Linked DNA regions of Homo sapiens. The protein of the gene in region 1 purifies or fractionates together with the protein of each later gene. This does not show direct contact. Each region holds a gene or a part of one and is shown in the gene's direction. Other genes may lie near its edges. The genes, in order: TARS1, EIF2AK4, PTGES3L-AARSD1, TARBP1, NIBAN2, GFPT1 and PAPOLA.

The links.
Region 2: the proteins of TARS1 (region 1) and EIF2AK4 fractionate together in Homo sapiens (co-fractionation; one large-scale study listed by BioGRID). This does not show direct contact.
Region 3: the proteins of TARS1 (region 1) and PTGES3L-AARSD1 fractionate together in Homo sapiens (co-fractionation; one large-scale study listed by BioGRID). This does not show direct contact.
Region 4: the proteins of TARS1 (region 1) and TARBP1 fractionate together in Homo sapiens (co-fractionation; one large-scale study listed by BioGRID). This does not show direct contact.
Region 5: the proteins of TARS1 (region 1) and NIBAN2 fractionate together in Homo sapiens (co-fractionation; one large-scale study listed by BioGRID). This does not show direct contact.
Region 6: the proteins of TARS1 (region 1) and GFPT1 fractionate together in Homo sapiens (co-fractionation; one large-scale study listed by BioGRID). This does not show direct contact.
Region 7: the proteins of TARS1 (region 1) and PAPOLA fractionate together in Homo sapiens (co-fractionation; one large-scale study listed by BioGRID). This does not show direct contact.

The regions. Positions count from the first base shown.
Region 1 is NC_000005.10:33,457,965-33,461,464, forward strand, and holds part of TARS1 (threonine--tRNA ligase 1, cytoplasmic), read left to right. Parts: intron 1-601; coding exon 602-700; intron 701-1,730; coding exon 1,731-1,897; intron 1,898-2,937; coding exon 2,938-3,100; intron 3,101-3,193; coding exon 3,194-3,331; intron 3,332-3,500. UniProt on the Homo sapiens protein: Catalyzes the attachment of threonine to tRNA(Thr) in a two-step reaction: threonine is first activated by ATP to form Thr-AMP and then transferred to the acceptor end of tRNA(Thr).
Region 2 is NC_000015.10:39,975,615-39,979,114, forward strand, and holds part of EIF2AK4 (eIF-2-alpha kinase GCN2), read left to right. Parts: intron 1-799; coding exon 800-1,230; intron 1,231-2,463; coding exon 2,464-2,533; intron 2,534-3,500. UniProt on the Homo sapiens protein: Metabolic-stress sensing protein kinase that phosphorylates the alpha subunit of eukaryotic translation initiation factor 2 (EIF2S1/eIF-2-alpha) in response to low amino acid availability.
Region 3 is NC_000017.11:42,977,729-42,981,768, reverse strand, and holds the start of PTGES3L-AARSD1 (PTGES3L-AARSD1 protein), read left to right. Parts: upstream 1-1,240; 5' UTR 1,241-1,586; coding exon 1,587-1,723; intron 1,724-1,756; exon of another isoform or gene 1,757-1,864; intron 1,865-2,105; coding exon 2,106-2,219; intron 2,220-2,324; coding exon 2,325-2,391; intron 2,392-2,500; coding exon 2,501-2,599; intron 2,600-4,040. Other genes in the region: RUNDC1 (RUN domain-containing protein 1), read right to left, coding at 695-1,192; putative protein PTGES3L, read left to right, coding at 1,716-1,723, 2,106-2,219, 2,325-2,391, 2,501-2,599. UniProt on the Homo sapiens protein: Functions in trans to edit the amino acid moiety from incorrectly charged tRNA(Ala).
Region 4 is NC_000001.11:234,458,680-234,462,179, reverse strand, and holds part of TARBP1 (tRNA (guanosine(18)-2'-O)-methyltransferase TARBP1), read left to right. Parts: intron 1-1,783; coding exon 1,784-1,919; intron 1,920-2,853; coding exon 2,854-2,950; intron 2,951-3,500.
Region 5 is NC_000009.12:127,513,574-127,517,073, reverse strand, and holds part of NIBAN2 (protein Niban 2), read left to right. Parts: intron 1-54; coding exon 55-217; intron 218-3,500. UniProt on the Homo sapiens protein: May play a role in apoptosis suppression. May promote melanoma cell invasion in vitro.
Region 6 is NC_000002.12:69,324,728-69,328,227, reverse strand, and holds part of GFPT1 (glutamine--fructose-6-phosphate aminotransferase [isomerizing] 1), read left to right. Parts: intron 1-1,152; coding exon 1,153-1,314; intron 1,315-1,994; coding exon 1,995-2,039; 3' UTR 2,040-3,500.
Region 7 is NC_000014.9:96,557,882-96,561,381, forward strand, and holds part of PAPOLA (poly(A) polymerase alpha), read left to right. Parts: intron 1-2,767; coding exon 2,768-2,830; intron 2,831-3,500. UniProt on the Homo sapiens protein: Polymerase that creates the 3'-poly(A) tail of mRNA's. Also required for the endoribonucleolytic cleavage reaction at some polyadenylation sites.

The DNA.
Region 1 (3,500 bases):
ACTGCCTTGCACCCCTGACTACCTGACATTCCAGCTATGAGGCAGCCAGCAATGATTGATGGGCCCTTCCCTGAGGGCTTTTGGGCACTTGGGGAGGCGGATGTTGGCAAGGAGGTAGGAGGGTGTGTTTCTTTCACCATGACCCAAAGTCAGCCAACTTTACCATCATCTATTTCATTATCAGTGTCTTTTTCCCAGTCTCCTTCCTGATACTCTTACTAAGAAAATAAATACATACATAAATAAAATGAAAAAAGATCCAGATCTTGGAGCTTTAAGGAATTTAAGAACCATGAGAGGTACTGCAGTGGATAGTTAAAGAACTGAAGGGACCCTTATTCCCTGCCACTGTTGGGGAAACTTGACTGGATTGAGGAATATAACAGGCAGGGCATGTGTTACACGTCTGCCAAATTGTAAATCAGCTGCAATTCTATAACATCAGAAACACTGACATGGTTTCTTTGATTCAGGAGTGGCACTGATTGAAATATGGGACATCATGACCATATTCTGAGCTCAAGAACACTGAAATTTATGTATATATACACACACGTATACGTGACGTACATAAACATTCTTTTGCTTTTCTTTTACCCAGGACCAAGAACTATATTTCTTTCATGAACTCAGCCCTGGAAGTTGCTTTTTTCTGCCAAAAGGAGCCTACATTTATAATGCACTTATTGAATTCATTAGGGTAAGTCATATTTATTGCTTTCTTCTTTAGATTTAGGATATGTGATCATTTTATTAAATAAGGTCTACTAAAAGGAAAGATAATCTGTATTTGAGAAGAAATATATAAGACGATAAGTAAAAGTAGAAGTCTGTGGCCTCATAAATCATCCCTAATAGTTGATTTTGCCCATATACACATAGAAACTGGTGAGCTTGAAGGGGGACCTGTGGTCCTTGACATAGGAGCTCTGTGCCCTCTTTGACTTTGATCATTTATTTGTATTTTCTTTGAAAAAACGGTTTTTACATTGCTTTTTTCCTTTGTAAATTATGAAATGTTTCAAGTATAAGTTTATAGAGAATAGTATATCCAATATCTTGTACTTAACTACCCACATTTAACAAATATTCACATTGGGCTATATTTGCTTGAGATTTTTTCATTCATGATATTAAAAAAAAAATTAGTTGTTTAAAAAGCCTCTCTTTAGGACCCAGTTTTGATCCATATACCTCCATATACTGGTATATATATCCATATACTGGTATATCATATACCAGTTTTCTAGAAGAAACTACTGTTTTGAAGTTGGCATGGATTCTTTTTGTCCATGTTACTTATATCTAGCCCATGTATTTGTACCCTTAAATTATTTATGTATTTGTGTGTTACATATAGGAAGCCTCATTGTGTATCAGACTGCCTTGTGATTTATTTTTAGAGACATGCAAATCAAGTTTATTTTCACTTGCTACATATTATTTTGTTATATAACTACCACAATGCACTCATCCCTGTATTGATGGACACTGATGTATAATTGTCCCTTATTATCAGCCATGCTGCAGTAGCATCACTTTTATAAGCCTCCTTAGGTACATGTGCCAAGAGTTTTCTCTCTGGTATATACTTAGAAGTGGGATTTCTGAATCATGGCATGTGTCCATCTTTTTCATGAGAGAGTATAAAATCACTCTTTAAGTTTTTACTCCCACTTGAAGTATGAGCATTTATTTGCCTACACATGTTTCTGTTTATTTTCTATCAGAGCGAATATAGGAAAAGAGGATTCCAGGAGGTAGTCACCCCAAACATCTTCAACAGCCGACTCTGGATGACCTCGGGCCACTGGCAGCACTACAGCGAGAACATGTTCTCCTTTGAGGTGGAGAAGGAGCTGTTTGCCCTGAAACCCATGAACTGCCCAGGACACTGGTATTCGGCAGCTTTGAATTTCTACTGAAGATTTTCACATGCTACAATTCATCCTGGGTTCTTCCCTCCTTTAACAACATTTTCATTAAAAACAAATTATGTGATCAGAAGAGCATTTAAACGCAACATCTTTGTATTATATCTTCTGCACCTGATTAGATCCCCACTTTTTTTTTTTTTTTTTTTAAAGAGGTCTTCCAACTGGAGTGCAGGTATGCGATTATAGCTCACTGCAGCTGGGACTGCAGGTATATGCCACCATGCCCAGCTAATTTTTAAAATTTTATTTCTGTAGAGATGAGGTCTTGCCACGTTGCTCAGCCTGGTCTCAAACTCCTGGCCTCAAGCGGTCCTTCAACCTTGGCTTCCCAAAGCGCTGGGATTACAGGCATGAGCCACTGTGCCCAGCCAGATCTCCAGATCTGTGGGCATTCAGTAATGGTACTGGGATCATAGCAATGACCAAGGCAGACTATAAAACAGGAAGATGAAATATGGGGGTGTAACAAATTACCTAGTGTGTTGTTGTTTTAAAGAAACCTGTTCTGTCAAAACCTGCTAATGACTCAGCATTCTTGGAAAATGTTCCTTGTCATGAGGCCGCTCTGCTTTCTATCTTTGAAAGTTGGGTGAAGAACAGCTTAAGGGAAGACACAGGAGAGCTGTGGATACAGGTAGCTTAGTGTCTGCAGCTCCTACTAGCCAGGCCTGGAGGGCAGAGGAGGTGAGAGAAGAATCTTTGTGAAGAAGCTGTATTATAGGCTAGGGGACCAACCAAGTTCATTCTTAATTTTCCCAGATTCTTCAGTTGTTGGAATACGTTTTTTAATTCTTCACTGTGGTTCATTGAGTTATAACTTATTTGCTGTTTTATTCATGCAAGTGCTTTTACTGCTGTATGTAGCCCAGAATTTGAGAAATGTTGCTTGGATGGACAGCTAGAATCAGTGGCTTTTTGACAACCTTTCGTGTAATTAAATATAGCATTACAGAAGCAGTTTTATTCTTAAGTGTCCGTGGACTTTTCTTTTTCTCTTCAGCCTTATGTTTGATCATCGGCCAAGGTCCTGGCGAGAACTGCCTCTGCGGCTAGCTGATTTTGGGGTACTTCATAGGAACGAGCTGTCTGGAGCACTCACAGGACTCACCCGGGTACGAAGATTCCAACAGGATGATGCTCACATATTCTGTGCCATGGAGCAGGTATGAGACCCTGGGAATAAAATACTTAGAAAGAAGAGTCAAGAAAGTCAAGGAAAATAACTACTGTTTCTTTTTTTGTTTTTTAATTTGAAGATTGAAGATGAAATAAAAGGTTGTTTGGATTTTCTACGTACGGTATATAGCGTATTTGGATTTTCTTTTAAACTAAACCTTTCTACTCGCCCGGAAAAATTCCTTGGAGATATCGAAGTATGGGATCAAGCTGAGAAAGTAAGTGGTGTTTTTCAGCGTGCTTTTGAATACTGTTTGAAATTGGCTTGTTCTGAGATGTAAGAAAGCCAAGCCTCTTTAAATGGATAAAAGCAAAATGAAATTGGAAATGGTTCCTAGGTTTGTGTAAGCTAGTTTTTTTCTTTATGATTGTGTATTTTTGAAATGG
Region 2 (3,500 bases), on another chromosome or scaffold:
CATAAGGATGCCTCTATGTAGGATGGGAGGACTTGCCTTTGCAACGTTTTCTTGCTTTCTTATTATTTTACTGTGTTGTTAATTGTATTGTTCTGGTTTCAGTATACATCATCTTAGGTATATAACAAAATCAATGGGCAGTGATTGTGTTAATAGCAATTGCTGTTATTGACTAAGCTAAGCACCTTTCTCTGTGAGGCCTTGATACAAGTGCTTTACAGTCACCATTTGGGGTAGTGGAAATGGTATAAATGCCATTTTAAAGATAAGAAAATTGAGTCTCAAGGAAATTAAGTAATTTTCCCAAGTTCACACGGCTTTAGAAATCAAGGAATTAACCTTTGTGTTCAGGTCTGTTAATATTTTTGGTGTTTAATTTGTTTTTAGTGACTTTAAGTGTAAAAAAAAATCAGAGAGAAACTAAAATCATCTGAAACTTTACACTGACTTTAGAAAATAATTTTTAATCTTAAAATCAAGACACTTAGAAATTTAGATAGCAGATACATTGGAAAAGCAGGGAGGTAACTGTCAGTAAAATTAATTATTAAAATGGAGATTATGTTTTCCCCAGGGTCTCCCAGCAAGCTAAATATATCTAGAGTCGGGTGGGCTGTTTTCTGAATTTTGTGGCAGTCAAAGCTTTCTTCAGTTTAAGAATTTCAGGCATGTGGTTCTTGACTGTAGCTGTGGGACTCATTTAGAACTTCACGCTTTCCTTGGGAGGGGATGGGGTGCGGTGCAAATGCCTGTTTGTGCAAGGCTCCGAGCGGCTGACCTTCCCCTGGCTGTGCCGCAGGTGCAGAACAAGTTGGACGGCTGCTGCTACGCAGTGAAGCGCATCCCCATCAACCCGGCCAGCCGGCAGTTCCGCAGGATCAAGGGCGAAGTGACACTGCTGTCACGGCTGCACCATGAGAACATTGTGCGCTACTACAACGCCTGGATCGAGCGGCACGAGCGGCCGGCGGGACCGGGGACGCCGCCCCCGGACTCCGGGCCCCTGGCCAAGGATGACCGAGCTGCACGCGGGCAGCCGGCGAGCGACACAGACGGCCTGGACAGCGTAGAGGCCGCCGCGCCGCCACCCATCCTCAGCAGCTCGGTGGAGTGGAGCACTTCGGGCGAGCGCTCGGCCAGTGCCCGTTTCCCCGCCACCGGCCCGGGCTCCAGCGATGACGAGGACGACGACGAGGACGAGCACGGTGGCGTCTTCTCCCAGTCCTTCCTGTAAGCGCACGGCGCGGACCAGCTGCCTCTGATGCGCCCCCTAGTTTCCTTTCTTTATTTTTTTTTCCTTTTTCCTTTCATTTCCTTCCTTCCTTCTTTCCTTCTTTTCTTTCTTTCCTTTTTTGAGATAGGGTCTTGCTCTGTCACCCAGGCTGGAGGTCAGTGGCGCGTCCTTGGCTGCAACATCCGCCTCCCGGGCCAGCGAATGCCCCCCAACATTAATCCCCACCAAGTCCAAGCCAGGGAAAAGGGGATTCATTTAGAAATCCAGACGTGTTGACCATGTTTAAAAACAAAAACAAAAACAAAACAAAACCACCACTTTTAGAGAGTAACCAAATGCAATCTAAAGGAGCGGTCCCCAGCGTTTTTAGGCACCAGGGACTGGTTTCATAGAAGACAATTTTTCCACAGACGGGTGTTAGGGAAATAGTTTCGGGATGAAACTGTTCCACCTTACATCATCAGGCATTAGAGTCTCATAATGACTGCTGAAAAAGCGCACAACCTGGATCCCTCGTGTGCACAGTTCACAATAGTGTTTGCGCTCCTATGAGAATCTAATGCGGCTGCTGATCTGACAGGAGGTGGAGCTCAGGCCTTAATGCTTGCTCACCTCCGGCTGTGCGGCCCTAACAGGCAGTGGACCTGTACCTGTCCATGGCCTGGAGGTTTGGGACCCCTAATCTAAAGGATTTTTTTTCCCGCTATTTTCAAAAGATCTCCAAAATCCAAGCCATGGAAAAAGGAAAATTCAATACCTCATCTTATACATTGAATAGAATTTCTCATAGGACATTCCTTTGGATAAGGGCTTGCAACCCTGTGAAACATTTAAGAACTAATTTGGAGTCTTGATACAGTGCCAACTGCAGCCCCCAAAGGTACCAAACCAATAATTATGATCCTAAATTTTATGCTTCTCAGAATCCACCCTGGATGTTTACTTTCATGATTTTGTTTTATTTTATCCAAGTGGATACAGTTTATGATTACTCTTCACTATTAAATTTTTTGAGGAAACTTAATCTGGCTAATTTTTATTAAATCAAGGGTTCTGTGTTTTGCATAATAGCAAGTACAAATCAGCACAGTGTAGAGTATACATTGATGCCTGTGGGCTCATGGTGTGATGTCTGTAGCCTCTTGTGCTTTCTAGTATTTAAAAATGTCCATGTTTATAATGATAATAGGGATTTCTGTTCCTTTAGTATTTCTGTTTCCCTTTTTCAGGCCTGCTTCAGATTCTGAAAGTGATATTATCTTTGACAATGAAGATGAGAACAGTAAAAGTCAGAATCAGGTATATATATGAATAGAAATTATATCATTTTATTCGTGATATAATTGACGTCTGATGTCATAAACCTTAGGTAAAGTATTAAGGCTTTAATCTGATATTCAGATATAGAAACCATAAATTTTAAAAGATGATTATTCATTTAAAATATATTCTACCTGTGTTTATTTATAGACCTTCTTTATTTATCCACATAGTAAAACATACCTCCTTTTAGAAGAGAGGAGTCAGTTGAGACACTGCATTTTTGTATGTGATGAAAACAGTTTTCTAAGGGTTTGGGAAACTTTATATGGTTGGGGATAAGAATTGAATGCAAATTAATGAACTAGATTTGCATTTATGGAGTTACCTCATCATGGAGTTACCTTGGTCTGTCCCACGTCAATTAATCTTGATTCCTTATTTTCATAGACCATCCTCTAGAACAGTGTTTTCACACTGTGTATCGTGATCCTATAATGCAGGGGTGTCCAAGCTTTTGTCTTCCCTTGGCTACACTGGTAGAAGAATTGTCTTGGGCCACACATAAAATATACTAACACTAATGATAGCTGATAAGCTAAACAAACAAAAAAATCACAAAAAATCTCATAATTTTTTTTTGAGATTGTGCTGTTTTTTTAGTTGTGTTTTCAATGGAGAAATACATCATCTGTTGACAAAATAGCTTTTGAAAAATACGAGTACAGATACTATAAAACAAAGCAAACTTCAGTCGTGAGACACTACATACATCATGTGAAAGCAACAGTCTGATCTCCAGGTTGTGAAAACTATAATTAAAAAGTCACTACACAGAAAAGATCCAAGTTTCCAGGTTGGCAAAACTTCGGTGCAGTTACATGAAACGTTTAACAAACTGATTTGTTTTCCCCAATGTGTAAACAAAATGACAAGACTAAGTCTGTGCCTGGTAATTTCAATGTAACTCTGAAGCTACACAAAACACACAGACACCTTATACACT
Region 3 (4,040 bases), on another chromosome or scaffold:
CCTGCACGGTGGCACACGCCTGTAGTCCTGAGGCTGAGGCGGGAGGATGGCTTGAGACCAGGAGTTCGAGACCAGCCTGGGCAACATACCAAGACCCTCCCGTCTCTTAAAAAGGAAAAATTCCAACATTAGGAAATTTATCTAATCAAGAGTTGTGTTTATTTCAGTTACTAAGAGACCCTGCTGTTAATCCAAACTCCCACCCAAAGAAGTGTAAAGACTGCCTAGATTTCAGGAAAGCAGGGACAGGGAGTTAACCTAAATTTCCACGGATTCCAACTCACTTTCCTTTCCTTTGCCAATTTTCCCAATCCCCAGAGTCGGGGTCCTCTAGCAGCCAAAGTGTTCAAGACTGAGATACGTGAGGGAAAGGTGAGTGGGCGCAGCACTGCTCTTGGCTGCTCTGCTGCCCTCTCAACGACTCACTTCGCTCACCGCTCCTCTACCACTCACGTCATCACGCACCGACATCTCTCCACATCCTCCGTGCACACCGCTCACCCTCAGGTTCCCAGGCCTCTGTCCTCTTGCCCTTCAGCCGGCCCCGCACTCCAGTCCCCTGGTCTCCGACACACGTACTCACCGACCGAGTCGGGGAGGCTTCTCCCCGCATGCACCATCATCCGGGTCTGGATCGCCACCCACACGACCCCACTATTCCCATATTCCTCGCGGCCCGGCTCCAGCCACTCACCTGGTCCTCGCCCCGCAACCATGGCCGGTCCCCTGGCAGCCCATCGCCCTCATCGCTGGCGGGGTCGCCGGGCCCTTCGTAACCTAGGACGTGAGGGCAGCCGCGGAAGGCGAAGTCTTCGAGCTCCCGCAGAAGGCGCTGCTGCTCCGCCGGCGCCCCGCGCACCACCTGGCGCAGGCGGAACTGCACCTGCGCGAAGTGCGAGGACAGCGCCAGCAGCGCCGAGTCCAGCCGCCGCCGCTCTGCCCGCAGCCGCCGCAGCGTCCGGCCCGGCGAATCCGGCGGGGAGCCCGGGGCCGCGCCAGGCTCCTCGGCCGTCGCCTCTTCTAAAAACGCGGTTGCCCCAGGCCGGGCCTCCGCCACCGCCCCCACTGGGGCCCAGCGCACCGCCTCGCACGGTGGCAGCGGCTCCTCTTCCTCCTCCTCTTCGTCTTTCGCCTTTGGCCCAACAGCCGCCACCACCGTTACCGGCTCTGCAGCCGCTTCGACAGCCGCCATCTTCCCGGAAACACCACCGCACGTCAGCCGCGCCCCCCTGCTGCCATGGCAACGGCGCGGTGGCCTGGAACCCCAGGGGAGTGGTGGGCGGGGCCTGAAGTACCCAAGTCCCCGAGGGCGCGCCTTCCCCGGGAATTTAATTCAGGACAATAATGTTTTATTGAGCGCCTATTGTGAATCAGACACTGAGCAGTAAGCGTCGGAGAAACAGGTGAATGATACCGGGGAAAAGTCATTCCCTGTGTGTAGCGTCTAGGGCAGCCTTTGCCCTGGTTCCAGCAGATGGGTTGTCTCTTCATAGTCTATGCATTTCTGAAGACCCCACGGTGAAGGGCTGCAAGGATGAAGCTGTCCCAGAGTATCTCCAGAGTGCAGATCCCTTGGCTGCCAGGTCATGTTCTCTCTTCCTCTCAACTGCTCTCCCGACCATATAAGGAGAGGCAGCTGCTGGGGGCGTCCCCAGGATCTAAAGATAGCGGCCCCTGCCTGGAACTCTAAATGCCACCCTGGAGCGGGAGCCGCAATGGCACGGTGAGTGTTTCCGGCTCCGGTGCTCCCCCTGGCCCTTTTCCCTGGAGATTCCCTGCTCCAAGTCTTCTGGGCGCTCCAGGTTCTGTGAGGCCCCACGGGAGCCCCGGACCCCTGGTCTCTGTAACTGTGGGGTGAGGGAAGGTGTGACCTGAATGTTCTCCCTGACCTCCTAGTTTCCTAGTCTTGCACGTTCTATTCTTCCCAGGTTCACATTCACCACACCCACCCACTCCTGTCATTCCCTTCCCTTTCACCCCTTCTGTCTCATTTAGCTCCACTTTGAAAAAACTGTGGCATCAAAGGTCCCTGGGTAGTCCCTTCCCAAATGACCTCAGTCTTCCCTCTCCCACCCCTATGAAGCCACACCTCAACTTCTCTTCAGGCAGCACGCCCGGACCTTGTGGTACGACAGGCCCAGGTATGTGTTCATGGAGTTTTGTGTTGAGGACAGCACCGATGTCCACGTGCTTATTGAGGATCACCGCATTGTGTTCAGGTAGTGGCCCTGCCGTCCGAGGGCCTGGCTTCCCAGGAATCTACCCCTTTCCTAATGTCCCCACACGGAGTATTCCGCATCTCCTCAGCTTCATTGTCTCCTCAGCTGCAAGAATGCCGATGGAGTGGAGTTGTACAATGAGATTGAGTTCTATGCCAAAGTGAACTCCAAGGTAAGGGTGAAATGGGACAGTAAGGTTTGGATGGAAACCGGGCTGCCCAGGGAAACTGGAGATTAATTCTAAACCCCAGACCCTAAGAATGAGGCTCTCTATCTGGCAGGACTCCCAGGATAAGCGCTCTTCCCGCTCTATTACTTGTTTTGTGAGAAAATGGAAGGAAAAGGTGGCCTGGCCGCGGCTTACCAAGGAGGATATCAAGGTGGGTGTGTGGAAAGTGGCCTGCTTCTTCTCTCCATGTACCCAGGTTACAGCTGGGATTGTCCTTGCCTCCTTTCCAGCCAATATTCAATCACTCAACAAGTCCTGCCTAATCTTTTTTTTCCAACTGTATTAGTCTCTCTTTTTATTTTTATTTATTTATTTATTTTGAGACGGAGTTTCACTCTTGTTGCCCAGGCTGGAGTGCAGTGGCGTGATCTCAGCTCACCATGGCCTCCGCCTCCCGGGTTCAAGCAATTCTCCTGCCTCAGCCTCCTGGGTAGCTGGGATTACAGGCATGCACCACCACGCCCAGCTAATTTTGTATTTTTAGTAGAGATGGGGTTTCTCCTTGTTGCTCAGGCTGGTCTCGAACTCCCGACTTCAGGTGATCTGCCCGCCTCGGCCTCCCAAAGTGCTGGGATTACAGGCGTGAGCCACCGCGCCTGGCTTATTTTTTAACTTAAAGTTCTGGGATACATGTGCAGAACATGCAGGTTTGTTACATAGGTATACGTGTGCCATGGTGGTTTGCTGCATCTATCAACCCGTCATGCAGGTTTTAAGTCCTGCATACATTAGCTATTTGTCCTGAGTCTCTTTTTACTCTCTTGGTAATCTCTCCCAGTTAACTTACTTTCGTTGTAGGTGATGAAATGTGTAAGACTCCACTTCAGATATTGGCACTGCTATGAACATGGTCTTTCCCTTTACTGCAACTCACAATCAAAACCTTTGATTCTTTTTGTGTGTGTGTTTGTGTGAGATGGATTCTCACTCCCGTAGCACAGGCTGGAGTGCAGTGGCGCGATCTTGGCCCACTGCAACATCCACTTCCCGGGTTCAAGCGATTCTCCTTCCTCAGCCTCCTGAGTAGCTGGGATTACTGGCTTGTGCCCCCACGCCTGGCTAATTTTTGTATTTTTAGTAGAGACGGGGTTTCACCATATTGGTCAGGCTGGTCTTGAATTCCTGACCTCAGGTGGTCTACCCGCCTCAGCCTCCCAAACTGCTAGGATTACAGGCGTGAGCCAATGTGCCCAGCCATTTCTTTTTCTTTTTTCTTTCTGTTTTTTTTTTTTTTTTTTTTTTTGATTCGGAGTTTCGCTCTTGTTGCCCAGGCTGGAGTGCAATGGCATGATCGCAGCTCACTACACCTCCGCCTCCCAGATTCAAGCGATTCTCCTGCCTCAGTCTCCCGAGTAGCTGTGATTACAGGCATGTGCCACCACACCCAGCTAATTTTGTATTTTTAGTAGAGACAGTGTTTCAACATGTTGGCCAGGCTGGTCTCAAACTCCTGACCACAGGTGATCCACCTGCATCGGCCTCCTAAAGTGCTGGGATTACAGCTGTGAGCCACTGCACCCGGCCTCTGCCAATTCTTGTTTTCTATATTCCAGTCCCAGAAGTAGTTTCCACTGTAGAAATTAATTGATGAG
Region 4 (3,500 bases), on another chromosome or scaffold:
ACTTGGCCATTGCCATCTTCCTAGTGTCATGAGTGAAGCGTTAGGCAAAAGATGGGATTTACTGAATTTAGTTAGTGCAAATGGAAGAAAGAAAAATTGAGGCCAGGAGTTCAAAAAGAGCAATTAAAACATTCATTCACAGTTATTTAGTCATTTTTCAGTCACCAGTTTCCAGTGAATATCTTCTGGGTGTTCTGAATGTCTTTTGTGCTAGGTATTTCAAAAGACACAAAGTCCGCGTAATATCCTTTTAGTAGCTTCTGAGGATTTCTTGAAAGTCATTCTACAACTATGTGAGAAAACAGACATTTTCACTAACTACATGAGATGAGGGTCCTTAAGAAATCACAGATTAGCAGAGAGGACAGAATGAAGCACTATCCCTTTGTATCTCAAAATAGAAATATAAATAATCGTAATTAAATCCAAGGTAGTCAAGAAACAGCCTATGAGAAAGATGTTACTGTTTGCATATACTAGAGGCCACTAACCATCAATACTTCCTATCCTGTTTTTCCTTCACATCTCAAATAGAAGAATGGCTTCTAATCATAAACAATTTTATCTTTTACTGGCCGGGTGTGGTGGCTGACGCCTGTAGTCTCAGCACTTTGGGAGGCTGAGGTGGGCAGATCACCTGAGGTTGGGAGTTTGAGACCAGCCAGCCAACATGGCCAAACCCCGTCTCTACTAAAAATACAAAAATTAGCCGGGTGTGGTGGCACATGCCTGTAATCCCAGCTACTCAGGAGGCTGAGGCAGGAGAATCACTTGAACCCAGGAGGTGGAGGTTGTAGTAGTAAGCCAAGATCAAGCCACTGCACTTCAGCCTGGGCAACAGAGTGAGACTCTGTCTCAAAACAAACAAACAAACAAAAAATTACCTTTTAAAAAAATACAGCTTCATGGGTATCAGAATCCCTATAGTACAGTAGAATACTTATCTTACTAAACTAGGAATTAAATTAACTTTTTTTTACAACAGCTTTATTGAGATAGAATTCACCCTTTTAAACCATTTGGTTTAGTGGTGTTTAGTGTATTCACAAAGTTGTACAGCTGTTACCACTGTCTAATTCCTGAATATTTTGATCACCCTCAAAAAGAAACCTCAGGTGTGTTAATAGTCGCTTCTCATTCTCTTCTACCCATAGCTCCTGGCAGCCACTGATCCTCTTTGTCTCTATAGATTTGCATATTCTCAACATTTCATGTCAGTGGAATCATACAATACGTGGCTTTTTGTGTCTGGCTTCTTTCACTAGCATAGTATTTTCAAGGTTTATCCTTGTTATGGCACGTATCAGCATTTCATTCCTTTTTGTGGCTGAATAGTATTTCACTGTATAGATATTTCACATTTTGTTCATTCATTCATTGGTAGGCATTTGGATTGTTTTCACTTTTGACTATTTGAGTAATGCTGTTATGAATGTTCATGTACAAGTTTCTGTATGAACACATCTTTGATTCTCTTGGATATATACCTGGAAGTAGAATTACCGGATCATGTGGTCCGTCTAAGTTTTGGAGGAACTGCCATATTTTTTTCCACAGCGGCTGCACCGTTTTACATTCCCACCAGCATTGTGTGAGGGTTCTGGGTTCTCCACATCCTCCCCAACTCTGAGTATTGTCTGTCCTTTAGATTATAGCCATCATAGTGTGTGGGAAGTGGAGCCTTACTATGGTTTTGACTTGTATTTCCCTAATACCTAATGGTATTGAGCTTCTTTTCATGTGCTAATTGGCAACAATGATAATTTAAAACTTTTTCTTTCAGGTAGCTTCCTATTGAAGTTTATTCGGAAGATGACAAGTAGGCATTGGTGTGCTGTTCCCATTTTGTTTCTATCTAAGGCTTTGGCAAATGTCCCAAGACATAAGGCCCTGGGTATAGATGGGCTTCTTGCTCTCAGGTAATTTACTCTGTATATGTACTTGTATGGTTATTTGCCATGACTTTCCATCAATATATATATTTTCTCCTCTGCTTTAATCTACAGTAAATGGATATAGTTAATATTGGGATTGGGATGTTTGGGCTCTTAATTTTACATAAGAAAAAAATTAAAAAATGTATTATTCGTATAGTTGAACTTATTTTGTTTTACAAATTACTAGTTTAAATGTGTACTGAAGTATGTGCTGTTGAATTTTGACCTCTTTAAATAAGGCCAGTAAGTTTTTTTTAAAATTACATTCGTAAGTAGAAAGCTAAAGATAAAATATCAAACAATAATATTTAACAGAAAGTATTTAAAAAATATTTGGTAAAAAGGAATTTTGAGGAGATGAAAAAAAGAAAAAGTATTTCAGTAAATATAAACTTCTTTAAAAGCATCTTCATTTATAGTTTTTTTTTTTTGAGCTGGAGTCTCGCTCTGTCACCCAGGCTGGAGTGCAGTGGTGCGATCTCGGCTCACTGCAACCTCTGCCTTCTGGATTCAAGCGATTCTCGTGTCTTAGCCTCCTAAGTAGCTGGGATTAAAGGTGTGCGCCATTACTCTCGACTGATTTTTGTATTTTTAGTAGAGACGGGATTGCACCATGTTGGCCAGGCTGGTCTCAAACTCCTGACCTCAGGTGACCTACCCGCCTCAATCTCTCAAAGTTGTGGGATTAGAGGTGTGAGCCACTGCGCCCGGCCTATAGTCTTATTTTTAAAAGAGACTTGTTTCATAGTAAAATTGAGCTCTTAATAGAGGCCATAATGGGAAATAACAGCTTTGAAATTCTGCAGACTTTCTGCATTAGGAAGTGTAGTTGTTATAAATCAACTTGTTGATAATCACAAATTATCAGAATTGTCTTTGGGAATACGGAACTGCATTTTTTGTGTTTCGATGTCAGGGATGTTATTCATTGCACTATGATCACACATCAGATTCTCCTGAGAGGGGCAGCCCAATGCTACCTTCTTCAAACAGCTATGAATTTGCTAGATGTGGTAAGTTTTTCTTTTGTTACTTCCATTTACAAGTCTTTCTTAGTGAGTGGGTGTACAGAAATGAGTTAACATAGCAGACCTGTGATACTGCCATTAGAAAGGCCTGCTTGTAATAAAATAATAAATGTGCTTGTAATAAAATAATACATATGATCTCTCTAAATAGTCCTTGGCTGGCACTGGGACCTTGGATTTTGGGAGGATTTACACTATCCTAACTGCTAAGAGTGGCTTATTGTATCTAAAGTGTTTGTTCAATGTGGTTTATGCTGAAAACCTGCTTTCTTTCTGAGAGTCTGGAATTTCAGTATGTATGAGGCAAAAGGTGCCTGCATGACCACGTCCCAGGAAAAGCCCGAGGCACTGAGTCTCCATTGAGCTTCCCTGGTAGACAGACTTTCACTGTGTTGTCACAGCTTGTTGCTGGGGGAGCTAAGTGTGTCCTGGGTGGCCCACTGGGAGAGGACTCTTGGAGCGTATGCCTTGTTCCCTCTCTACATTTCCCCTCATCTTCCCCTGTATCGACATTCAAGGAATATATATGGTGTGT
Region 5 (3,500 bases), on another chromosome or scaffold:
GCAGCTGGTGCGGTGCCCTCAGCCCTGGTGCCAATTCAGCTGCTCTGCCCACAGATCTCGGACGCCGTGTACCACATGGTGTACGAGCAGGCCAAGGCGCGCTTCGAGGAGGTGCTGTCCAAGGTGCAGCAGGTGCAGCCGGCCATGCAGGCCGTCATCCGAACTGACATGGACCAAATTATCACCTCCAAGGAGCACCTTGCCAGCAAGATCCGAGGTAGGCAGCCACCCCCGTGCTCGACGGGCCCTCCAGGGGCCAAGGTGGACTTTCTTTTTATTTCATGATTCATGTAAATTTCACAGCAATGACTTGCTCATTGATCATTTGTAAGAATTAGAGCCAAATCTGCACTGTGGTACTCCAACCCCTGTGAGTTGTTTTGTGGCTATTATTTCTATAAGCCCAGAACTTGAAGAGAAAAATTTTTGTTCTGGAGGTTCAAGCCTTCTTTTCATCTCTGACTCGTCACAGATTTTTACCATGTGTCATTTTAAAGTACATTTACGTTCAGCAAGTATAGCTTTCCCAGGTCAGTTTATTCTGTCACCCAGGCTGGAATGTAGTGGTGCGATCTCAGCTCACCACAACCTCCGCCTCCCGGATTCAAACAATTCTCCTGCCTCAGCCTCCTGAGTAGCTGGGACTACAGGCACACGCGCGCCACCATGCCCGGCTAACTTTTGTGTATTTAGTAGTGATGGGGTTTCACCATGTTGGCCAGGCTGATCTTGAACTCCTGACCTCGTGATCCGCTCACCTTGGCCTCCCAAAGTCCTGGGATTACAGGCATGAGCCACTGTGCCCAGACTGTACGCCTTTCTCTTCCCAGCCAGATGGGATCCTTTCACCAGCTTGGTCCCCATAACACATCTGCAGAGCTCAGTTTTAGCAATTGTCAGTTGCCCATGGGACGTTCTTTTTATTTTATTTTATTTCATTTTATTTTATTTGAGACAGGGTTTCACTCTGTCGCCCAGGCTGCAGTGCAATGGCACGACCTTGGCTCACTGCAGTCTCTACCATCCTCCCACTTCAACCCCCCAAGTAGCTGGGACTACAGGCATGTGCCACCACGCCCAGCACATTTTTGTATTTTTTGTAGAGACAGGGTTTTGCCATGTTGCCCAGGCTGGTCTCAAATGCCTGAGCTCAAGCAATCCACCCACCTTGGCTTCCCAAAGTGCTAGGATTACAGATGTGAGCGACTGTGCCCAGCCATTATTATTATTATTATTTTGAGATGGAGTCTTGATCTGTTGCCCAGGCTGGAGTGCAGTGGCACAATCTGGGCTCACTGCAACCTTGCCTCTCGGGTTCAAGCAATTCTCCTGCCTCAGCCCCTCAAGTAGCTGGGATTACAGGCACCTGCTACCATGCCCAGCTAATTTTTGTATTTTTAGTAGAGACAGGGTTTTGCCATGTTGGCCAGGCTGGTCTTGAATTCTTAACCTCAAGTGATCCACCTGCCTCGGCCTCCCAAAGTGCTGGGATTACAGGTGTGAGCCACTGTGCCTGGCCTGTTTTTTTTGTTTGTTTTTTTTTTTTTTTTTTTGAGACGGAGTCTCGCTCTGTCGCCCAGGCTGGAGTGCAGTGGCGTGATCTCGGCTCACTGCAAGCTCCACCTCCCGGGTTCACACCATTCTCCTGCCTCAGCCTCCTGAGTAGCTGGGACTACAGGCGCCCGCCACCATGCCTACCTAATTTTTTGTATTTTTTAGTACAGACAAGGTTTCACCGTGTTAGCCAGGATGGTCTCGATCTCCTGACCTCATGATCCGCCCACCTCGGCATCCCAAAATGCTGGGATTATAGGCGTGAGCCACCGCGCCTGGCCGCCCGGCCTGTTTTTTAAGAGACAGAGTCTCGCTCTGTCTTCCAGGTAGAGAGCAGTGGTACAATCATGGTTCACTGCGTGACCTCCTGAGCTCAAGTAGTCCTCCCACCTCAGCCTCCTGCGTAACTGGGACTACAGGTGCAGGCCACCACGCCTGGCTAATTTTTAAATTGTTTGTAGAGAAAGGGGTCTTGGCTGGGCAAAACTCTATCTCTTTTAAAAATTTTTGAAAGAGAGAGAGAGAAGGGGGTCTTACTGTGTTGCCCAGGCTGGTCTCGAACTCCTGGCCTCAGACAATCCTCCTGCCTCAGCCTCCCAAAGCACTGGGATTACAGGCATGAGTGGCCGTGCCTGGTCTCCTGTAGGTTATTCTTTACTAGCCAGATCCTGAGTATTGGTTGACAGCTGGATAGGACACTGAGCATTGACATTTCTTGTGTGGAACAAAGAACGTTAGCTGGGCTGGGATGGGGGTGGACATCTAAATATTCTTGAGTGAAAATGCTTTGGTCAGAATGTTCTGGAGATGGTCCCCACCCAAAGGAAGAAGGCTTTTACATAATTATGCAGAGCCAGCCACACTATTCCAGAGAGGATCAGCCCAGTTTTTGTAAAACCAAGAGGCTCATTGAATCTACTAAGGTATTTTTCATTGCTGTTGTTCTTTTTGTTCAAACGAAGAAGCAAGACCCATCCTAAAGGAGTTTTTGTCTACTTCTAGCTAAGCAGAACACTGCTGACACCTCTGGGCTGGCAGTTTTCTTATTTTATTTTATTTTCATTTTCATTTTTAATTTTTGTGGGTACATAGTAGGTGTGCATATTTATGGGGTACATGAGATGTTTTGATCAGGCATGCAATGTGTAATAGTCACATCATGGGAAATGGGGTATCTATCCCCTCAAGCATTTATCCTTTGTGTTACAAACAATCCAAGTATATTCTTTTAGTTTTTTTTTTTTTTTTTGGACACAGAGTCTCACTCTTCTTGCCCAGGCTGGAGTGCAGTGGTGCCATCTCAGCTCACCGCAACCCCTGCCTCCCAGGCTCAAGTGATTCTTCTGTCTCAGCCTCCCAAGTAGCTGGGATTACAGGCACATACCACCACGCCCGGCTAATTTTTGTATTTTTAGTAGAAATGGGATTTCACCATGTTGGCCAGGCTGGTCTCAAACTCCTGACGTCAAGTGATCTTCCTGCCTCGGCCTCCCAAAGTGCTGGGATTACAGGCCTGAGCCACTGCACCTGTGCAGCCTCTTTTAGTTACTTTTAAGTGTACAATTAAATTATTATTGATTATAGTCACCCTGTTGCGCTATCAAATACTAGGGCTTATTCATTCTGTAACCAGAAAGGGGTCCCGATCCAGACCCCGAGAGAGGGTTCTTGGATCTTGGGCAAGAAAGAATTCAAGGTGAGTCCATAGAGTTAAAGCAAGTTTATTAAGAAAGCGAAGGAATAAAAGAATGGCTACTGCGTAGACAGAGCACGAGGGCTGCTGGTTGCCCATTTTTATGGTTATTTCTGATGACATGCTAAACAAGGGGTGGATTATTCATGCCTCCCTTTTTAGATAGAGCATATAGGGAGACTTCCTGACGTTGCCATGGCATCTGTAACCTGTCATGGTGCTGGCGGGAGTGTAGCAGTGAGGACGACCGAGG
Region 6 (3,500 bases), on another chromosome or scaffold:
GAGTTACGCTAGCTTATTTGAATGACTTACAAAACATGTTTACACGTGTTAACTCATTTACTTTGGAATACAGCCTTTGAGGTTTACATGTGAGGAATCAGATACTTAAGAGTTTTTTTTTTTTTTTTTTTTTGAGATGGAGTCTCTGTCACCCACCCTGGAGTGCAGTGGCACAATCTTGGCTCACTGCAACCTCTGCCTCCTGGGTTCAGGCAATTTTCCTGCCTCAGCCTCCCAAGTAGCTGGGATTACAGGCACACTCCACCACGCCTGGCTAATTTTGTATTTTTGGTAGAGATGGGGTTTCATGTTGGCCAGGCTGGTGTCGAACTCCTGACCTGAAGTGATCCACCTGCCTCAACCCCCCAAAGTTCTGGGATTACAGGCATGAGCCACCCCGCCTGGCCCAGATACTTAGAGCTTTAAGAAGACCAAGGTCATAGATCTCATATTGGGCAGAACCAAGACCAGAACTGAGGTCTTGGTCTCCACATCCTGTCTTCTTTTAGTTAACATATGCTGTTCCTTTTTAATTTAATACTTCTAAAACATTTAAAAATGTATTTTAAAATATTTTTAAATATATATTTCAGCTGGTTGCAGTGGCACATGACTGTAGTCCCAGCTACTCTGGGGACTGAGGCAGGAGGATCACTTGAGTCCAGGAGTTTGAATACAGCCTGGGTAGCATAGTGAGACCCTGTCTCTAAAACAGTAAATAAAATAAATTAAAAAAAATTACACACACGCGATATATTTCAGGGGAAATCTAACATCTAGGTTTTATTTTAATATTATATAATTGAGTTTTCTTCAGATCAGTTGGCTTTATATATAAATTCCAAAAGATATTATTCCCTAAGCACAATGTGGTGGTAATGAACTTGAGCTTTGAAGTTAGGCAAACCTGCAGTCAAGTACTAAGCCTGGTATTTCTTAGTTGCATGAGTTTAAACAAATTACTGGATCCCATAACGCTTCTGTTTCCTCGACTATAAGTAATAACAATCAGATTTACTACACAGGAATTTAAAGAAGTCTGTCCGTGAGGCTTCATATGGATTATGCAGTGCAATTTTTGCACATTCGTAAGCTATAGCCCTGCCTTTGCCCACCAGTGATGTTGTGTATGTGTGTGATTTTCTTTCCTAGGGGCGGCCTGTGGTAATTTGTGATAAGGAGGATACTGAGACCATTAAGAACACAAAAAGAACGATCAAGGTGCCCCACTCAGTGGACTGCTTGCAGGGCATTCTCAGCGTGATCCCTTTACAGTTGCTGGCTTTCCACCTTGCTGTGCTGAGAGGCTATGATGTAAGTCATCTACCACTGCAGAAATCTTGGGATGGTTTTTTACCTGGATACATTCTGATTTTTTTCTCCTAAATTTTTAACAATAGTGTTTGAGAAATCTATCAAATATATATCTGTCACCTGTTATATTTTCATGGCCCAATTTGTAGGTTACATCACAACATCTTCTTACCCATAGAACTTGAAGGAACCTTGGGGTTCACCTCCAAGATTGTGACTCACCTTGGGTAGTCTCCACCTGTTTTCTTAATATAACCTCTATCTCTTAACAGGGCAGCTATTGGCATTTGGCAGGACAATTCTTTTTTGTTTGGAACTGTCCCACACATTGAAGACTTTGTAGCATTCCTGGTTTCTCAGCCATTGTGGCAACCAAAACATAGTGCTTTTGTTTTTAGTGTCCCCTATGAGGGCTACTACTTCTGTAGAGGACCACAGTAGCTCTTTCTGTGTGAACTGGCACCTTTAGAATGCTTTTTCCTAACCAATTTCAGTTTTTTTCAGGACACATTATGTGATTATATTTTCTAATCTAATTCTTTGTAGTCTGTAATAAAGATGGTTAATGAATGTATTGTTTTCTGTTTTTATAAACAAAAATAATTTGCTTATAGTAACCACCCCCTTCCCCAGTCTATATAATCTCTCAAATCTTGCTTTTTTTTTTTTTCTTTTTGCAGGTTGATTTCCCACGGAATCTTGCCAAATCTGTGACTGTAGAGTGAGGAATATCTATACAAAATGTACGAAACTGTATGATTAAGCAACACAAGACACCTTTTGTATTTAAAACCTTGATTTAAAATATCACCCCTTGAAGCCTTTTTTTAGTAAATCCTTATTTATATATCAGTTATAATTATTCCACTCAATATGTGATTTTTGTGAAGTTACCTCTTACATTTTCCCAGTAATTTGTGGAGGACTTTGAATAATGGAATCTATATTGGAATCTGTATCAGAAAGATTCTAGCTATTATTTTCTTTAAAGAATGCTGGGTGTTGCATTTCTGGACCCTCCACTTCAATCTGAGAAGACAATATGTTTCTAAAAATTGGTACTTGTTTCACCATACTTCATTCAGACCAGTGAAAGAGTAGTGCATTTAATTGGAGTATCTAAAGCCAGTGGCAGTGTATGCTCATACTTGGACAGTTAGGGAAGGGTTTGCCAAGTTTTAAGAGAAGATGTGATTTATTTTGAAATTTGTTTCTGTTTTGTTTTTAAATCAAACTGTAAAACTTAAAACTGAAAAATTTTATTGGTAGGATTTATATCTAAGTTTGGTTAGCCTTAGTTTCTCAGACTTGTTGTCTATTATCTGTAGGTGGAAGAAATTTAGGAAGCGAAATATTACAGTAGTGCATTGGTGGGTCTCAATCCTTAACATATTTGCACAATTTTATAGCACAAACTTTAAATTCAAGCTGCTTTGGACAACTGACAATATGATTTTAAATTTGAAGATGGGATGTGTACATGTTGGGTATCCTACTACTTTGTGTTTTCATCTCCTAAAAGTGGTTTTTATTTCCTTGTATCTGTAGTCTTTTATTTTTTAAATGACTGCTGAATGACATATTTTATCTTGTTCTTTAAAATCACAACACAGAGCTGCTATTAAATTAATATTGATATATTCAGTATTCTCTTCAACTTTGTCACGAGGAAGAATTTCCTGTAGTTAATTTTAACTTTCCTTCATTACATTGTTGCATAAAACTAGTCCCTTAGTGCCAGTTTGGAAGTTACTTGCAATTGTTTGGAAGATTTGCAGGTCGCTGACCTCATCATTTCACTCTAAGTATATGTGGTAGGCTAAGCTCAGAAAAAGGTATGTATGCTTTACACTGATAGGCACCAAATTTAGTATTGTATCCTAAGTATTTTTCCTCTTCTGTATTTTCTGTGCTCTACCCCTGAAATATATTTAGGAATAAAGAAGATATAAATAAAGTGATATTGGGGTATGTTCAGCTTGTAAGTGTCAGAAATGGAAGTTGACAATTTGGATTAAAATATTTAAAGTAGAATGTTATTATTTGATACCCCCAAAATTGTGAGTAATAATTTCTTAATGGAGCTTTTCTGGCCAGATCTTCAGGGCTATAGGAGAGTGTGTTTGTTTTTGGTGAAGTCCTTCTTTTTCAAAGGTTTTTACTTTTAAATTGTGAAGATAAGCTAT
Region 7 (3,500 bases), on another chromosome or scaffold:
AATACAATGTAAATGCTGTTTAAATTGTTGTTATGATGTATTTTTTAATTTGTGTCATTTTTATTGTTGTATTATTTTTTATTTTTCTAAGTATTTTTGATCCATGGTTGGTTGAATTCGCAGATATGGATTCCACAGATATGGAGGGCCCACTGTAAATAATCATAACTTAGAAGATGTGTTCTGAAAACTCATCTGTGTCTGTGTAATTATCTCTTAGGGCAGTGATTTTCATCATTGGTTGTACAACAGAATTAGTTTTTGGGGTTTTTTTTGTTGTTGTTGTTTTTCAATAAAGATTTTAGGGCTTTCTCCAAACTGAATCAGAGATCTTCTAGAAGTTAGGCCTGGAGATCCTATTAAGAGCCCTGCTGCCACATGATTGGGTTGTGCAGCAGCTAAAGAATATACTCAATTTTTGTGTCAATTACACATTCAGACTACTGATACTGGTTTGAAGTTGTCACGGCATTTCAGAACTCAAATTTCTTTTGACATTAGTAAAGTGTATTTAAGCATAATTCTATGCATTTAACATTTGGTTTTCTTTATGTTAAAAATGGCACCCTAAGAGCTCTAAATAAGTTTGTACTAGTGCAGTATTTTGCAATTTTGTTTGCACTTACCTTGGTAGAATAACACTTGTGTTTCTTGTCTGGTTTAGAAAAGCAATAAGAATATAGAATTTTTAAACTTAAGTATGGAAAATTAAAAATACATATAAAAGAGTCATTTTATGTACCTGTGTACCCATCACACAGCTTCTGTTATAATTAACTCTCAGCCAATCTTTGTAATCTTAATTCTTTCAGCCTTTTTCATTTTCTCTTGCCATTGAATTACTTAAAAGCAAAATCCAAACATGTTTCATTAGAATCTTAAAAATCATATCTAAGAATGAAAGCATTAACAGTAAAATTAGCCTACTCACAAAAATTAACAATTTATTAATATCATCAAACATCTAGTCAGTGCTCAAATGGCCCCTGATTGTTTCATTGATTTTTTAAAAAATAGGCTGTTTGTTTAAATCTGGAAGCAGAAAAAGATCCCTGTGTTGCAATTGTTTGATATCTCTAAGTGTCCTTTAAAATATAGATTCCCTCCTCCATCCCTCCCCCACTTTTCCCTGTAATTTTTTTTTTTTTTTTGGTGTATGTTTTCTCAGTCTGGATTTTGCTTACAGTATTTCTACGGAGTTGATTAATAGAACTATAGCATTTTAAGAAGATAAGGGGTATTAGGTTATTCCATGGGCTAATCTCATTTCCTACCAGAAGAACTTGCTGTTTAGTGGCTTTTCCAGTTACGGATCTAGTTACAGTTAGAGGCAGGATTAGAACCCAGGCCTAAATCTCATGGTGCTTTAGTCAAAAGAAATTTGCTGTGGTAGAAGTAATCCTGATTTTGAAGCCCTTCTTAATTGGGTCTTTTATTCTCTGCTAATGAGTACTTGGTATTAGAAATTTTAGCAAAGCAGAAAGAAATACTGGCCTCACTCAGTAATGCACTAACGTGTATATAGATAGGAAAGTTTTAGATACTCTGAGGTAGTTTAGTTCTGCTTAATGGTCATCATATCCTAAGGTTTTTCAAATAAATATAAATGGTAATGTAAAATAAAAATCGAAAATGTTTGCTCTATTTCCTGGATTATAGCTAAATTAACCTCTCTCTCTCTCTCTCTCTCTCTCTCTCTCTATATATATATATATACACACACACATATATATATGTATATATATATATGTGTATATATGTATATATTTAAAACTTTCTGTATGGAAAATTTCAAACATGTCATAAGTATAATGAACTGTCATGTTTGCATCACCTAGCTTCAACAGTTAACAACTCACAGCCAGCCTTGTTTTATCTACATACCCACATCACTTCCTTCCCCATTGTTTTGAAGCAAACCCCAGGCATAACAACCAAAAACATTTCTTTGTATATCTAAAAATAAGGACTTCTATAAAATATAAGTACCGTATATTTGTCACACAAATATTAATAATCCATAGTTTTACATATCAGTCAGTATTCAGATTTGGCCAATTGTGACACATTACTATTTTTAAAGTTTGCATATTTGCAGGGTACAAATAAAGTCCTTATTGGAATTGATCGATACTGTATTAAATCTCTTCTAAGCTATAAGCCTGTGGTTTTTCTATGCCTGTTTTAAAAGTCACATTTAAAATTAAATTTTAATTCTGCTGAGAAAATAGTGTCAAAATAGTTATTAAGACCCAAGCAAGGCATTTCTCAAGTCTTGTATTCTGTAGGATGTTAGTAGGTCGTACCAAGAGCAAGGATTCTCTGGTTAAGCTTGGGAAAATTAAAGTGGAGTTCTTTCTTGATAGAATTTATTAGAACCTTTTATGTGCCACTCTGTGTGAATCTCCCAGAATGGGGGTGATACTATGCCAAGTTCCTAAAGTTGTATGATCAGGAACTCTTTTTTTTTTTTCTTTTCCTTACAAAATATATTTCTATGAACTCTTAGTGGTTTTGGAAATGTACTTTAGGTGGTGATCTGCAGTAACAGTTTTCCTAATGCTCTTTTTAATTTTATTAGCTACTGAAGCCAAATTTAATCTGATAAAAACATTTTAAAAGAGGGACCAGTTATCTATTTTAAGGCTGTAGTTGATCTTACAGGTTTAATTATTTTATAGTTTTAAAGTTTATAAAGTAAAGCATTGATTGGCAAATAATCTAAATTTTTCATTTTAGAGAATAAAGCTTTTTTTTTTAAAAACAGGATGAAACAAGTGAAGATGCTAACTGTCTTGCTTTGAGTGGACATGATAAAACAGAAGCAAAGGTATACTAATTTAGCCTTTAGAATACATACACAATTAAGAGTACAGAAGATGTAATAGAAATGTCTCTAAAATATTGTATTTTTGTGCTATAGGTTTTAGATTTTTTTAGTATTGTTTATTACTGTTAATTATGTAATGCTGAACACTGAAGGGAATATTGTGATGAGTGAAACACATTCTGTGCCTTTAAAGGAGCTTATAATTAAGTAGACAAGATAAGTCATGAATGTAATTAATTACATTATCAAAGAAAAAGTAATTGAGGGCTGGGGGCCACGGGGCAAGAAAAGTAAGATGTTATTTCTGACTGCAGAAATAGCAGTACATGTCTTCATTGAAGAAAGAAGTAGCATTTGAAGTGGTCCTCAAAGGATACATAGGATTTTTGATAGTCCGGGCTGAGATCATGATCTGTCTCTTTGGGTTGAGAATTTGTTATGATTATAGAAGCAGTTTTTGGCGTAAGGTTTTGGCTAGAACCTGGGGTACATGGGGCTTGAATGAGGTGTAGATGGGGTGGAAGAAATTTTTTTTTCCCCAAAATGTAAAAGACTCATTTTTTTTCCCTAGAAATTGAAATCTATTGAAGGCTTTTAACTTTCTTTCCTTGTGGAAAAATTGGAAATTCTCCCCCTTCTCCCAAATTATCCAGATTTCTATGATGGATAT